Regions from separate parts of the Homo sapiens genome. Here regions 1 and 3 are each linked to region 2. The links come from fine-mapping of genetic effects on gene expression. A gene starts in region 2. Each other region holds a variant in brackets. All regions are shown on one strand. Distances are between the middles of the regions.

The links. PIP is the estimated chance that this variant, and not a neighbour inherited with it, causes the effect.
Region 1: its variant is the best candidate, but not a certain one, in a credible set for the expression of IRF2BPL in monocytes after LPS (Fairfax 2014, PIP 0.51).
Region 3: its variant is the best candidate, but not a certain one, in a credible set for the expression of IRF2BPL in whole blood (INTERVAL, PIP 0.76).

Annotation. Positions count from the first base shown.
Region 1 is chr14:77,061,150-77,065,256 of GRCh38, reverse strand. The region is part of intron 2 of LINC02288 (long intergenic non-protein coding RNA 2288); the gene reads right to left. Among named protein-coding and RNA genes, the nearest start is that of LINC02289, 13 kb to the left of the region's middle. The variant C/AC (reference allele first, on the strand shown) is at 2,302.
Region 2 is chr14:77,026,751-77,030,839 of GRCh38, reverse strand. IRF2BPL (interferon regulatory factor 2 binding protein like) reads left to right here and starts at 2,132. Exons shown (of 1, transcript NM_024496.4): 1 at 2,132-4,089. The coding sequence starts at 3,048. It overlaps LOC107984638 (a long non-coding RNA gene), which reads right to left and starts at 3,372. Exons shown (of 4, transcript NR_190002.1): 1 at 3,029-3,372; 2 at 1,360-1,552; 3 at 1,104-1,179; 4 at 1-1,013. RefSeq lists an enhancer at 559-1,079 and silencers at 1,843-1,972, 2,173-2,382, 2,503-3,002.
Region 3 is chr14:77,051,554-77,055,660 of GRCh38, reverse strand. All of the region lies in intron 1 of LINC02288 (long intergenic non-protein coding RNA 2288), which reads right to left. Among named protein-coding and RNA genes, the nearest start is that of LINC02288, 13 kb to the right of the region's middle. RefSeq lists a silencer at 2,211-2,260 and an enhancer at 2,072-2,635. The variant A/T (reference allele first, on the strand shown) is at 2,087.

The DNA of each region.
Region 1 (4,107 bases), 34 kb before region 2:
CCCTGGGCAGGAGAGCTGGACATTGCCTGGACCCACATCAAAAGGCTCCTGCTGTGCTGGAAGGGTCAAAGCATCCTAGGCCCATCCTGGCCTTGTGATCTGAGTCTGGGGCTGCGGTGGCCAGGTTGTCCAGTGGACACTGTAGAGGCAGCCTCGGGGTGAGAAGCCCCTCATGTGGACCCGCAGCAGGGGACATAAGTGGGAAGGAACCCAAAGGCTCAGGGGGAAGCAGGGGTGTCGCTACATCAAGTAAAGCTCCTTCTCGCACCTGCCAGCATGCTGGGAGGATGCTACCTCTAGCATCCTAGGGATGGCAGAAAGGGGCAAGCATGGCTCTGCCTCCTGCCTCTGTGCCTGGTGCAGGCTCCACTGTGGTGTGGGGTCTCTGGCAGTGAGGACTAGGCTACAGCCACCACTCTGGCCTGTGAATCCTAAAGGAGCCAGGGCATGACAGTCCCCACTGCCAACCTAGAGTCCCTCAAACTCTCTATCTAGCCTGGCACTGCCTCCCTCGTCCTGCCAGACCCAGGGCAACAGCTGTGACTCTCCAGGGCTGTGCTCTGAGGGAGGAGCCCTTCCATTCTAGAGATTGCATGGTTGCCAAGCCTACCAAGGGCCCAGCCTTCACTGCCCGGGGAGCCTTTGTTTTCTCCTTCCTTGTTCTAGAAGGAAGAATGGGGGCTAGGGGCACGATCATGTACTATACACCTCTTCTGAGATAGGATCCCAGCTGGTTTCCTGATACTTCAGCCCATTCACATTCCTTAACTGCCCTATAGATGAGGCTCACAGACATGGGAGTGATGGGGTGTGATTTGGCCACACAACCCAAAGATATGGAGCTGAGACCCATACCCAGGTCCTTCCATCCCAGGGGCCACTCATTCCTACAATGCCTCAGTGCAGGCTTGCTGCTCTGCAGGCTCAGAGAGGATGCTTACCCTTTACTCCTGGTGAGCAGAGAACCTAGCCACGGAAGGAAGCCCAAAGAGGGACAAGCTCCTGGGGCTCCTGGGGGCCCCCCAGCCCTCCCTGACCCTCCTCTGCGGGGGCTGCTTCCAGGGGTCTTCCTTGCTTCCCAGTCCTCTGCATGCTTCCCTGACACCTCCACTTATGGAGCTCAGACCCTGCTTGCTGGAGTCAGGTCAGCCGGGCCTTGACCCCGCCCCTCCCCTGCTTGTGGATTTAGGGGCCTTTTTGCTGGCATCACCCTGTCCCAGCCAGACCGGGAGGACCCCTTCTTCTAAGCTCTCAGCCCTTCCTGCCAACATCTTTTAGCCAAGATTCAGCGAATCAGCAAAGTCTGACGGTTAACATGGCTCCCATCCCAGCTCTGTCATCACTAGCCATGTGACCTTGAGAATGTCTCGGAACATCTGTCTCCCAGTTTTGTCATCTATAAAATGGGGATGCTAACAGCGATATTCCTAGAGCTGTTGCAAGCGTCAAACATACACATAATTGGAACAGCTCCCCGCTGTGGTTTGTGCTCTGTATATCTTTACTGTTATTGTTATCTTTTTCTTCCTCTGAGCTCCTTCCACAGGATGGGTTATTCTGCAGATCCATGACTGGAAGGAAATTAGAGTGGGCTGGATGGAAACCAGGCCGTGGGCCTGATGAAACTGCCATATGGTGCTTTGCTCAGAGCTGTATACAAGAAGAACAAGTTCATATGCCAGTTGGGTGGTGGTGGAGATTGGGGAGGGAAGTAACAAGGACAGGGCTTTGCATATGCTCTATTTTTTGCCCCCTACCTTCCCCTAAAGCCCGTGGCCTCCAATCCCCATTGTCTCCCTTTCCTTTGGGTCTCTGGGTCTCTGATCGTCTTGTGAAAAACCCCATGGAGAGGCGGGGCAGCTGGAAAGAGGAGGAAGTGAGATGGATAACCATGCTGTCTAGTGGCTGGATAACCATGCTGTCTAGTGGCTGGCGCCCTGCGTGTGCTCAGCTACTGGCAGGTTCTACTGTGGTGTTTAACAGTAACTGTGAGCAGGCTGGGTGCAGTGGCTCACGCCTGTAATCCCAGCACTTTGGGAGGCCGAGGCGGGTGGATCACGAGGTCAGGAAATCGAGACCATCCTGGCTACCACGATGAAACTCTGTCTCTACTAAAAATACAAAAAATTAGCCGGGCGTAGTGGCAGGTGCCTGTAGTCCCAGCTACTCGGGAGGCTGAGGCAGGAGAACGGCGTGAACCCAGGAGGCGGAGCTTGCAGTGAGCCGAGATGGTGCCACTGCACTCCAGCCTGGGTGACAGAGTGAGACTCCGTCTCACAAAAAAAAAAAAACAAAAAAAAA[C/AC]CAGTAACTGTGGGCAAAGCCAATGTGAGTCTCGCAAGCCAACTGTGGTTTGTCTTTATTTCTTTCTCTCTACAAGAGACCCTTAAAAAGAAAGTCATTCTTGATACAAAGCACTGGGAACCCTCACAGTTGGCCCTAAAAACAACCAATAGCTCCTTATCTGGCACATGTATATCTCTTTGTTTTCCCCCGCTGTGTTGCCCCTGAAAATACCATGTCTGTCCTGCTCGCCACTGAGTCCTGATGCACCAAGCATGAACTAACGATTGATCTGCACTTGTAGACAGGGTGATGGAGAAGGGATCTGCAAACTTGGGAGCTTTACCAGAGAGCTAACACCTGTGAAAGGGCCTCATACAGTGTCTAGCACATAGTAGGTACCCCATAAATGCCACTTGACTCTGAGTCTGGGGGGCTGTTTGGTTGTCACCAATTTTGATGTATTTCTGGGCTAACATGTCCAGCAAGCAGGTGTGACCACACCCAGCCTGTTCAGGCTTAGCCAAAGAACTAGCAGCCAGTCCTTCCTGTGCAATGAGCCCAGCTCCAGCAGCTCACGTTGACTCCACCCAACCAGCTCTCTCAGCGGGTGATACCTGCCTTCTGCTGCGCAGGGTCTTTAATGCAATGTGTCTGTTTCAGGGTTGCCTCCTGAGGAGGGTAGAAGCCACCTCTAGCAACCCTCTGCTCAGCAGATAATGTCCCTTGCTAGCACCGATCCAAGGGGAAACAGGACCCACAGGCCCTTTGCAAAGGCTTCTTGAGGATAAGGAGGTGTTTCCCTCTGGGGTTCCTCTCTCGGCATTGAGGACTAAGGCATTTTCACAGCAACAGAATTCACTGTCTGACTAGTGCTTCCTGGAAGTCAAAACATGGTCAAGATCAGGTGACCAGGGGCCTCTAGAAGCCTTTGTCATAGTCATCTCCATGCTTTTACGTAACTTGGCCAGCCTGGACACACAGGTGACCTGCTACTCCTTGAGGGTTCTTAGGGCAGAGGAACCTCTGGCCAGGCCTCCTGGTGACTGGAAATGATGCGTGCTGAACTGCTGAGCATGCCTGCAAGGCCAGTGTAAACCACCATCCAGCCCCACCCCCACTCCCGCCCCACCTGCAGGCCCCCCTTGGGTACTCTAATGTGCCTGCGCCTGCCCACCTCGGGGCCTTTGTTACACAAAGACTTGCAAGCAGTGGTTCTGAAACTCGAACATGCATCGGAAGCCCCTGGTACGCTCATTCACGGATTCTGGGCCTCTTCCGCAGAGTTCCCAATTCAGTGGGTCTGGGGTGGGGCCTGACAGTTTGCCTTTCTTACAAATTTCTTTGCTGAAGTGGCTCACACCTGTAATCCCAGCACTTTGGGAAGCTGAAGCAGGAGAATTGCTTGAGCCCAGGAGTTTCAGACCAGCCTGGAAAACATGACAACACCTGTCTCTACAAAAAATAAAAAAATTAGGCCAGGCGTGGTGGCTCACACCAGTAATCCCAGCACTTTGGGAGGCTGAGGTGGGTGGATCACCTGAGGTCAGAAGTTCAAGACCAGCCTGGTCAACATGGTGAAACCCCGTCTCTACTAAATATACAAAAATTAGCCGGGTGTGGTGGCTGGAGCCTGTAGTGCCAGCTACTCAGGAGGCTGAGGCAGGAGAATTGCTTGAACCCGGGAGGCAGAGGTTGCAGTGAGCCGAGATCATGCCATTGTGCCCTAGCCTGGGGCAACAAGAGTGAAACTTCGTTCCAAAAAAAAAAAAAAAAAAAATTAGCTGGGTGTGGTGGTGTGCACCTGTAGTCCCAACTACTTGGGAG
Region 2 (4,089 bases):
GAGAATTGCTTGAACCTGGGAGGTGGAGGTTGCAGTGAGCTGAGATTGCGTCACTGTACTCCAGCCTGGGTGACAGAGTGGACTCTGTCTCAAAACAACAACAAAATACTATAGATAATATCCCCTTAATAATGTAGATAATATTAAGGGTGATGCAAGTAAAGCCACCTAGTTTACTAAGGTCCCACGGCAAGTCTAAGTAAGCGTTATCTCTTCTTATGACAAGAAACAAATTGAGGCCGGGTGAGGTGGCTCATGCCTGTAATCCCAACACTTTGGGAGGCCAAGGTGGGTGCATCACTTGGGCCCAGGAGTTTGAGACCAGCCTGGGCAACACGGCAAAACCCCATCCCTTTCCAAAAATACAAAAAAATTGGCCAGGTGTAATGGCACATGCCTGTAGTCCCAGCTACTAGGGAGGCTGAGGTGGGAGGATTACTTGAGCCTGGGAGGTCAGGCTGCTGCCAGCCGCGAGTGTGCCACTGCACTCCAGCCTGGGCAACAGAACAAGATCCTATCTCAAAAAAACAAAAAACCGAAGTTGAAATCTCAAACAACCCTAACAACCTGGGAGCTATCATTCCATTCTCTTTTCCATGGAAAAGAGAGATTTTGTGGGTAACTAGCTTAAGGGTGGAGAGCCAGTTAGTGATGGAGAGGAAATTTCAATCTGGTGGGCCACACTTCAGAATCCGAAATCCCATTATATTGCTTTCCCTTCTCCAGCCTTCCCTGGGATTATCTCAGTTTTCATGAAATAAAAAAAAAAAAAAAAGCAAACCCAATAATTAGAATAATCAATAGAAATGCCCCAACTAGAGCTATGACCAACATATCCATCGTGCCATAAGCAATACTGATGAGCAGTGATCTTGTAAGGCAGAAGAAATCACGGCCTTGGCCGGGCGTGGTGGTTCATGCTTGTAATCCCAGCACTTTGGAAGGCCGAGGCGGGAGGATCACCTGAGGTCAGGAGTTCAAGACCAGCTGGCTAACATGGTGAAACCATGTCTCTACAAAAATACAAAAAATTAGCTGGGCCTGATGGCGGGTGCCGGTAATCACAGCTACTTGGGAGGCTGAGGCGGAAGAATCGCTTGAACCTGCGAGGCAGAGGTTGCAGTGAGCCGAGATCGCGCCATTTTGCACTCCAGCCTGGGCGACAGAGCAAGACTCCGTCTTAAAAAAAAAAAAAAAAAAAAATCACGGCCTTGTTCCGCCTTCTGGGGCAACATGGAGTGAGATCACAGCGCCTGAGAAAGAACTTTGAAAACTGCGGCTGTGCTTTACAAAAATGTATCAGTATTATTAAATGCTGCCTCCACCTTTTAAAAATCAAACTCTAGAAAAAACACTCACCTGTTTGGCCTCTCCGGCCCCTCCCCCTCCCTGCCCTGAACTGCAGCTGTGCGCAGCCAGTTGCCTGTTTTCCTTAAAGGCCTCGGGGTGCTCGTATCTTCTTCAGACGTTCAGCCAAAATTTTTAAAGTGCGGCTGGGGGGAAGGGTAGCGCACTCTGAATTCATTTAGCTCTATCGTTGAAGCCCGGGTTCCTAGATCAGGGCACAAAAACAAATAGAAAAGACAATTTCTGGAAGATTGGAAAACAGCTAATTTTGCAGGTGCTTCGGCATCAGTGGTGGCGATGAATTTAACATCCATGCCGGGGGGGATAAGGTTCAACCGCAGATGAAATGGTTAATACCTTATACGAAATTCACGGCGAAAAATCCTGAAACAGGACATTTAAATTCACTGCCGAGGCTTGGGGGTGGGGTGGGGAGCAGGGATCGGAAACGACGCTAGTGGTTCTTAAATGCGTTTTTACTTGGGAATGCCCGGCAGGGAAAGGAAAGGTCATCGTCTGTTTAATTTCCACCCCCAGCTCTGGACTTCCAGCATTAGCTCGCCGGGCCTCAGCTGTTGTACACACACGGCGAGGGGGGAGGGGAGGGCGGAGGCGCGGAGGAGGGGCCGGCTGGGAGGAATCTGGGCGTCCTGCCGCGCATGCGCCTTGCCTGAGCAACAAGTGGGCTCCACAGAGGAAGTGTAAAGGGGAGGGGGAAGAACTGGTGCAGAGCATGGCGGTGACGTCAGCGCTCCGCCCGGGCGGCATCCCGCGCGGCCAAGCCGGGGACAGCGCGAGCCGCAGCCGGAGCAGGAGCGCCGAGACGCGCCTCCGGAACGTAGAGTAACAATCACAACCCCACATTCCGGGCGAGCGTGAGCACGAGCGGGAAGGGATGCGACCCGGGCCGAGGCGCCGCGCGAGCGCCCTGCAGCCAACGTGAGCGCCGCCAGCCGCGGCGGCCCGGGCGCCGGCCAGGCCTGGGGGCGGCGGGAGCCTGCGTGCGTGCACTCCTCTCCTCTGCTCTCGTGCGTCCTGGAAGCAGTGGCCGCGGCGGCTCCCTCCGGGGTGCAAACCCAGTCGCCGCCAGCAGAACGGCCGACGCTGCGGAGGGGAGAAGGTCCTTTCTCGGCTGCCACCCCCTCCCCCGGTCCTCCGGGGAAGCAGCGGCTTCAGCAAGATTGGACCCGGGCACCGGGTGGCACTGAACCCTCTGGCCCTCGCCCCAGGGGGCCCGTCGGGGAGAGGACGCAGCTCGTAGGGGGGTCCCCGGGGAGAGGAAGAGACAGCCCCTTTCGAGCTTCCACGCACCAGCCACTCCGGGGAGGGGGCCAAGAGGCAACGGCGGCCACCACCGGGCACCCTCGCCCCCTCCCCTCGGGCCGGGAGCTTCCAGCCCAAGTCTGCAGCACCAGGAAGAAGGCGCCTGAGCTCCCCTCGCGACGAGTCAACCGCAGTAGGAGGTGGGGGCGAAGAGAGGGCTGAACCCGTCCGCTGCCCGGGCGGTGGAGCCCCCACGGCGAGGCGCTGCGCCGGCGGTGGAGACTCGCGTTCCCTCCAGCCCCTGGGGCAGAACTTTCTCGCCCCCCCTCCTCCCTCCCCCGCAGTCGGACTCCCTCCCCAGCCGGCCAGTCCTCCCGGAGGAGAAGGCGCCGCGGAGACAGCCCGGGCGGGGGCCTACCTTCCCCAGGGCAGGCATCATGTCGGCGGCGCAGGTGTCCTCGTCCCGGAGACAATCTTGCTACCTGTGCGACCTGCCCCGCATGCCCTGGGCCATGATCTGGGACTTCTCGGAACCCGTATGCCGCGGTTGCGTCAACTACGAGGGCGCTGATCGCATCGAATTCGTGATCGAGACAGCGCGCCAGCTGAAGCGGGCGCACGGCTGCTTCCAGGACGGCCGCTCCCCCGGGCCGCCGCCGCCCGTCGGGGTCAAGACAGTGGCCCTGTCGGCTAAGGAAGCGGCGGCGGCGGCGGCAGCAGCGGCGGCCGCCGCCGCCGCCGCGCAACAGCAACAGCAACAGCAGCAGCAGCAGCAGCAACAGCAGCAGCAGCAGCAGCAGCAGCAGCAGCAACAACAGCTCAACCACGTTGATGGTTCCAGCAAGCCTGCGGTGCTGGCGGCCCCGTCTGGCCTGGAGCGCTACGGCCTAAGCGCTGCCGCCGCCGCCGCCGCCGCCGCCGCCGCTGCGGTGGAACAGCGCAGCCGCTTCGAGTACCCGCCACCGCCGGTGAGCCTGGGAAGCAGCAGCCACACCGCGCGACTGCCCAACGGCCTGGGGGGCCCAAACGGCTTCCCCAAACCAACACCAGAGGAGGGACCCCCAGAGCTGAACCGTCAGAGCCCCAATTCTTCTTCAGCGGCGGCGTCGGTGGCGTCTCGGCGTGGAACGCACGGTGGGCTGGTTACGGGGCTGCCCAACCCGGGGGGTGGCGGAGGCCCCCAGCTCACCGTGCCCCCCAACCTGCTACCGCAGACGCTGCTTAACGGCCCGGCCAGCGCTGCGGTACTCCCCCCACCCCCTCCCCACGCCCTGGGCAGCCGTGGGCCCCCGACGCCTGCTCCCCCAGGGGCTCCTGGGGGCCCCGCTTGTCTCGGGGGTACCCCGGGTGTATCGGCCACGTCGTCCTCCGCGTCGTCTTCGACCTCTTCGTCGGTGGCAGAGGTGGGCGTGGGTGCTGGTGGTAAGAGGCCCGGCTCGGTGTCGAGCACAGACCAGGAGCGCGAGTTGAAGGAGAAGC
Region 3 (4,107 bases), 25 kb before region 2:
CCTTAAGCCACTAATTTTTGAAAGTCAATTGTTATGATCTTGTTCTGATACACACAAGATCAGGAAGCGTGACAGGCCTCAATTTCCTGATCTGTAAAATGAGAGTTAAATGAGATCATGCATCTAAAACCCCATGCCTGGGGCCTGGCACCTTGCCTGTGCTTCACTGAGAATCTATGATTCTCAGCCAAACAATGCCACGATTCTGTACCCATGCTCTGCCCTGACTGAGTGATGGCCACGCAGACCGTGTTGTTCCAGGTCCTCAGATGAACAGCCATCATTCTCCTCTAATGGAAATGGCCTGTCACCATGGCAGCACCCTGGCTAAGAGCAGTGGCTTCTAAACCAGATAAGCATGGATGTAAGCCCTTCTCTGTCGGTTTCTAGCTTTGTGACCTTAGGCAAGTTATTGACTGTCTCTGAGTCTTGGTTTCTTCACCTGAAAAGAGAAGAAGTCAGCCAACCTCCCTCTCCAGGAAATCTACCCTGATTAGCCTCTCCCCACCATATTTCTCTAAATAGAGCTTTGTCATGGCTTGTTTACAAGACAGGTATTAGTTTCAAAACTTTAAGAAAAGGGATGAAATTAACTATATTGGTTGGAAAAGGGGATTGGGGGACCCCTGACCATAATTTATTAATAATAGAGCCCAACACCTCCTGCCTCTTCCCATCGCCTCTCTCCTTGTTCCCACTAGGACAGCCTCTCTGACCATGCTTCAGTATCTTTGAGTTTGCCATTTCTTCTGCCTGGAACCCTCTTCTACCAAATAGCTTCATAGCTCACTCTCTCATCTCCTTTTGGTCTTTATTTAAATGTTACTTTTTCAATGAGACGTTCCCTGACCACCCCATTTAAAATCCCCCACTCATTTTGGGGCACCCTCTTTTTTGCTTTAGTTTTCTCCATAACACATATTACCCTCAAACATCATGTTTATGTTACTTGCTTATTTACTTTTCTATCCCAGACTCCCCCCTGCCCCCCCCACACAAATGTATGCTCCAGTGGGGCAGGATTTTGTGTTTGTGTTTGTCTATTTTGTTTACTAATATTGCCCTAGTACCTGGCTATAGCTCAAAGTTTGCTATATGAGTGTGTACAAAAGCACACGCACCCATACATATCCTGAGCGTGGGGTGAAACTGTGGACATCTTGAAAGAATAAGCTGGACCCGACTTGGGTTGTGTGTTGATAGGGGTGTTAAAGCATTCCTCCAGCATCAACTGGCTTCCAATCCTCACCTTTGCTGTGTGTGTGTGTGTGTGTGTGTGTGTGTGTGTGTGTGTGTGTGTAATGAAGGCCATGGGGAGTAGAAAATTGGATGTTAATAAAAAGTCATCAAGAACATATTTCCTATCCTCTTCTAGCCCTTAAAGCCCTACCAACCATGAAGGATTTGCCCAGTGGTCTGGGGGAGAACAGGAATCCGGGCAGGCGATGGTTCCTACCAGGTTGGCACTGAGGCTAACCAGTCCAATTAATTTAAGGAGAAATACCCATGTGTCACCTGGAGAGAAAGTTGCAGGGTAACTGCACGATCCTCCCACATCCACTCTGATGACCTCTCATTAGAGGTTAGGGCTCTATCATTGCCCTGGAGCAGAATGGCTTGGGGCGGGGGTCTTCCGGGGTTCCTGGTAGATGGAGAGCCTGGGGAGATTGGCATGACAGGGTCCCTTCAGAATGAACCAAATGAATGACAGCCCAGGCTCAAAGGGATGAGGTTTCCTTTGAGAAGAGATGGCTGTTGGTGGTGACTGTTAGTTCCTACTAATGACAGCGACCTTGAAATCCATACCCAGGGTCTCTACCCTCTGGTTTGAGGGGAAGGAGTAGAGAAGTCTTCCATGCTACAGATGAGAACCTGAAGCTCTGAGGGATTATGTTCTCTGTCTAAGATTACCGCAAGTCCACGATGCCAGGACCTTTGTTCATTGCTATATCCCGATGCAGAACCATTTCTGTTGAATGAATGAACATTCAAGCAGATATTGATAGTCTCTGGGCTTGAACCCATGCGTGGTCGACACCAAAACTAGTTGGCTCCAAAAACCTAGCTTATCTTTCACTCATTTTGC[A/T]TCCCTCCCAAAGCCTGGCGGGGTACCTGACACCTGGGGGGTGATCTGTGAATATTGGGTCAATTGACCCGGCAGCAGCAGGTGGTGCTAACACGAACCACCTGAAGACCCCCAGCGGACAGGCGGGACCTCTGCTCGCAGCCAGCAGGGGGCGCGCACACATTGTTTTCCAGTGGGCTCACCTCCCCAGGCCCCCTTTGCAATCCTGTCCCGACGAGTGGTGTATTAGACAGAAAGGGCCCTCCCTCAACCAGCCTGTTTTATGTCAGGAGGCTTCAAATTATGCGGTCTTCCCCAGCAGGCAGCCCTCTGGGACGTGTGGCTCCTACACCAGGCGCTGTGCTAGGCCCTTGACACGCATTATCTCATTTCATCATCTGAGGTACTGATATCAATTTTACAAATGAGACTACTAAAGTGCTATTTTTACCCATTTTACAAATGAGAATACTGAGGCTTGGGGTTGTTCAGGGACTCGTACCCCTCTACCCTTGAGGCCTCGCCTCTTTGGGGTGGTGGGACCCTAACAAGTCCTGGCAGAGGCCTGAGCTTCTGGAGAGGGCCAGATGGGAAAGACCACTTCTCAGAAGAGGAATGGCTCCTGCCCGGGTTCTTCTCCAGTTCCTGCCTCCTCATGGTTTGTCACTGTTTCCCAGAGCTCTGGGCAGACACCTTGGGCAGGCCTGCCAGCTCCATGCTGTGCCACAGGGCAGCCAGGGACACTCCCTCCTGGTGTCAATTCCAGACACCTGGCACACACTGGGGAGTGTCCTGGGTGGTGTTGGTGGTGGTGGGAGGAGAGAAGGCTTCCTAGCATGTCACAGTAGGGCCAACTAGCCCACCCTCTTTGCCATTTTACATGCAAGGAAACTGGCCCAAAGGGGAGGCCCCTGGCCCAGGGGCTTGTCACGGCAGAGCCAGGGCTGGAACCCAGCTCTCTGGATTGCCAGTCTTTCTTCAGGCGCTAGCAGATCATGTTCTCTGAGGCCTGGAATTGCCTCCTTCCTCACATCCACCTCTCTCCCCACCCCTGCCATGTGCCATGAGCAATCCTGCCCATGCTGCCCTAGGCCCGGCTCCCTGCCCCTCTTCCGGGGAGCCTTTGCCATCCTGAGTTAGAACCACTTGTTCTCTTTAGTCTGTAGCAAGTGTGTCTGTCTGTTCCTGGGTGACTCGCCCCATCTCCGCAGCTGATCTCTGAAACAAGTGCCAAGGGGTAGGACAGTACAATGGACGAGGCACTGGGCTTGACTTTGAACCTGAGTGGGCCTCCAACTTGCTGTGTGACTGAGGGAGGTCATTTCACCTCTCTGGGCTTCTATATCCCCCCCTGGTCTGGGTCAGGGTTGTTTGGATGTTATCCATGGAGTCTCTGACTCAAGGCAGAGTGGACAGGACCCTATCCCTGCCCTAGATTAAACTGCAGCAGTCTTTTTTTCTTTCTTAAATACTTGGGCTTTGGAGTTCTGAGGCACCCAAGTTTAAAGGCCATTCTGAGGTCCTTTCTACTCTGATCTTGCTCTCGGTATCTCTCACCCCACCCCACCATTAGCCAGGAGGAATATGGCATCTTACATAAAGTATTCTCAATAAAGATTTGGTGAACAGACTTGAGCGTCAGTGGCCAGGCGCGGTGACTTATGCCTGTAATCCCAGCACTTTGGGAGGCTGAGGTGGGTGGATCACCTGAGGTCGGGAGTTTGAGACCAGCCTGGCCAACATGGTGAAACCCCGTCTCTACTAAAATTATAAAATTAGCCGGGCGTGGTGGTGCATGCCTGTAGTCCCAGCTACTTGGGAGGCTGAGGCAGGAGAATCACTTGAACCCGGGAGGCAGAGGTTGCAGTGAGATGAGATCACGCCACTTCACTCCAGCCTGGGCGAAAGAGCGAAACTCTGTTGCCAAAAAAAAAAAAAAAAAAAAAAAAGAATTGAGCATCGAAGCAGGGCTGTGCTGAACCCAGCTCAACAGGGGAGGGGCAAGCAGGAAAGGAGACCCTGGAACAAGCTTCTAAGGTGAA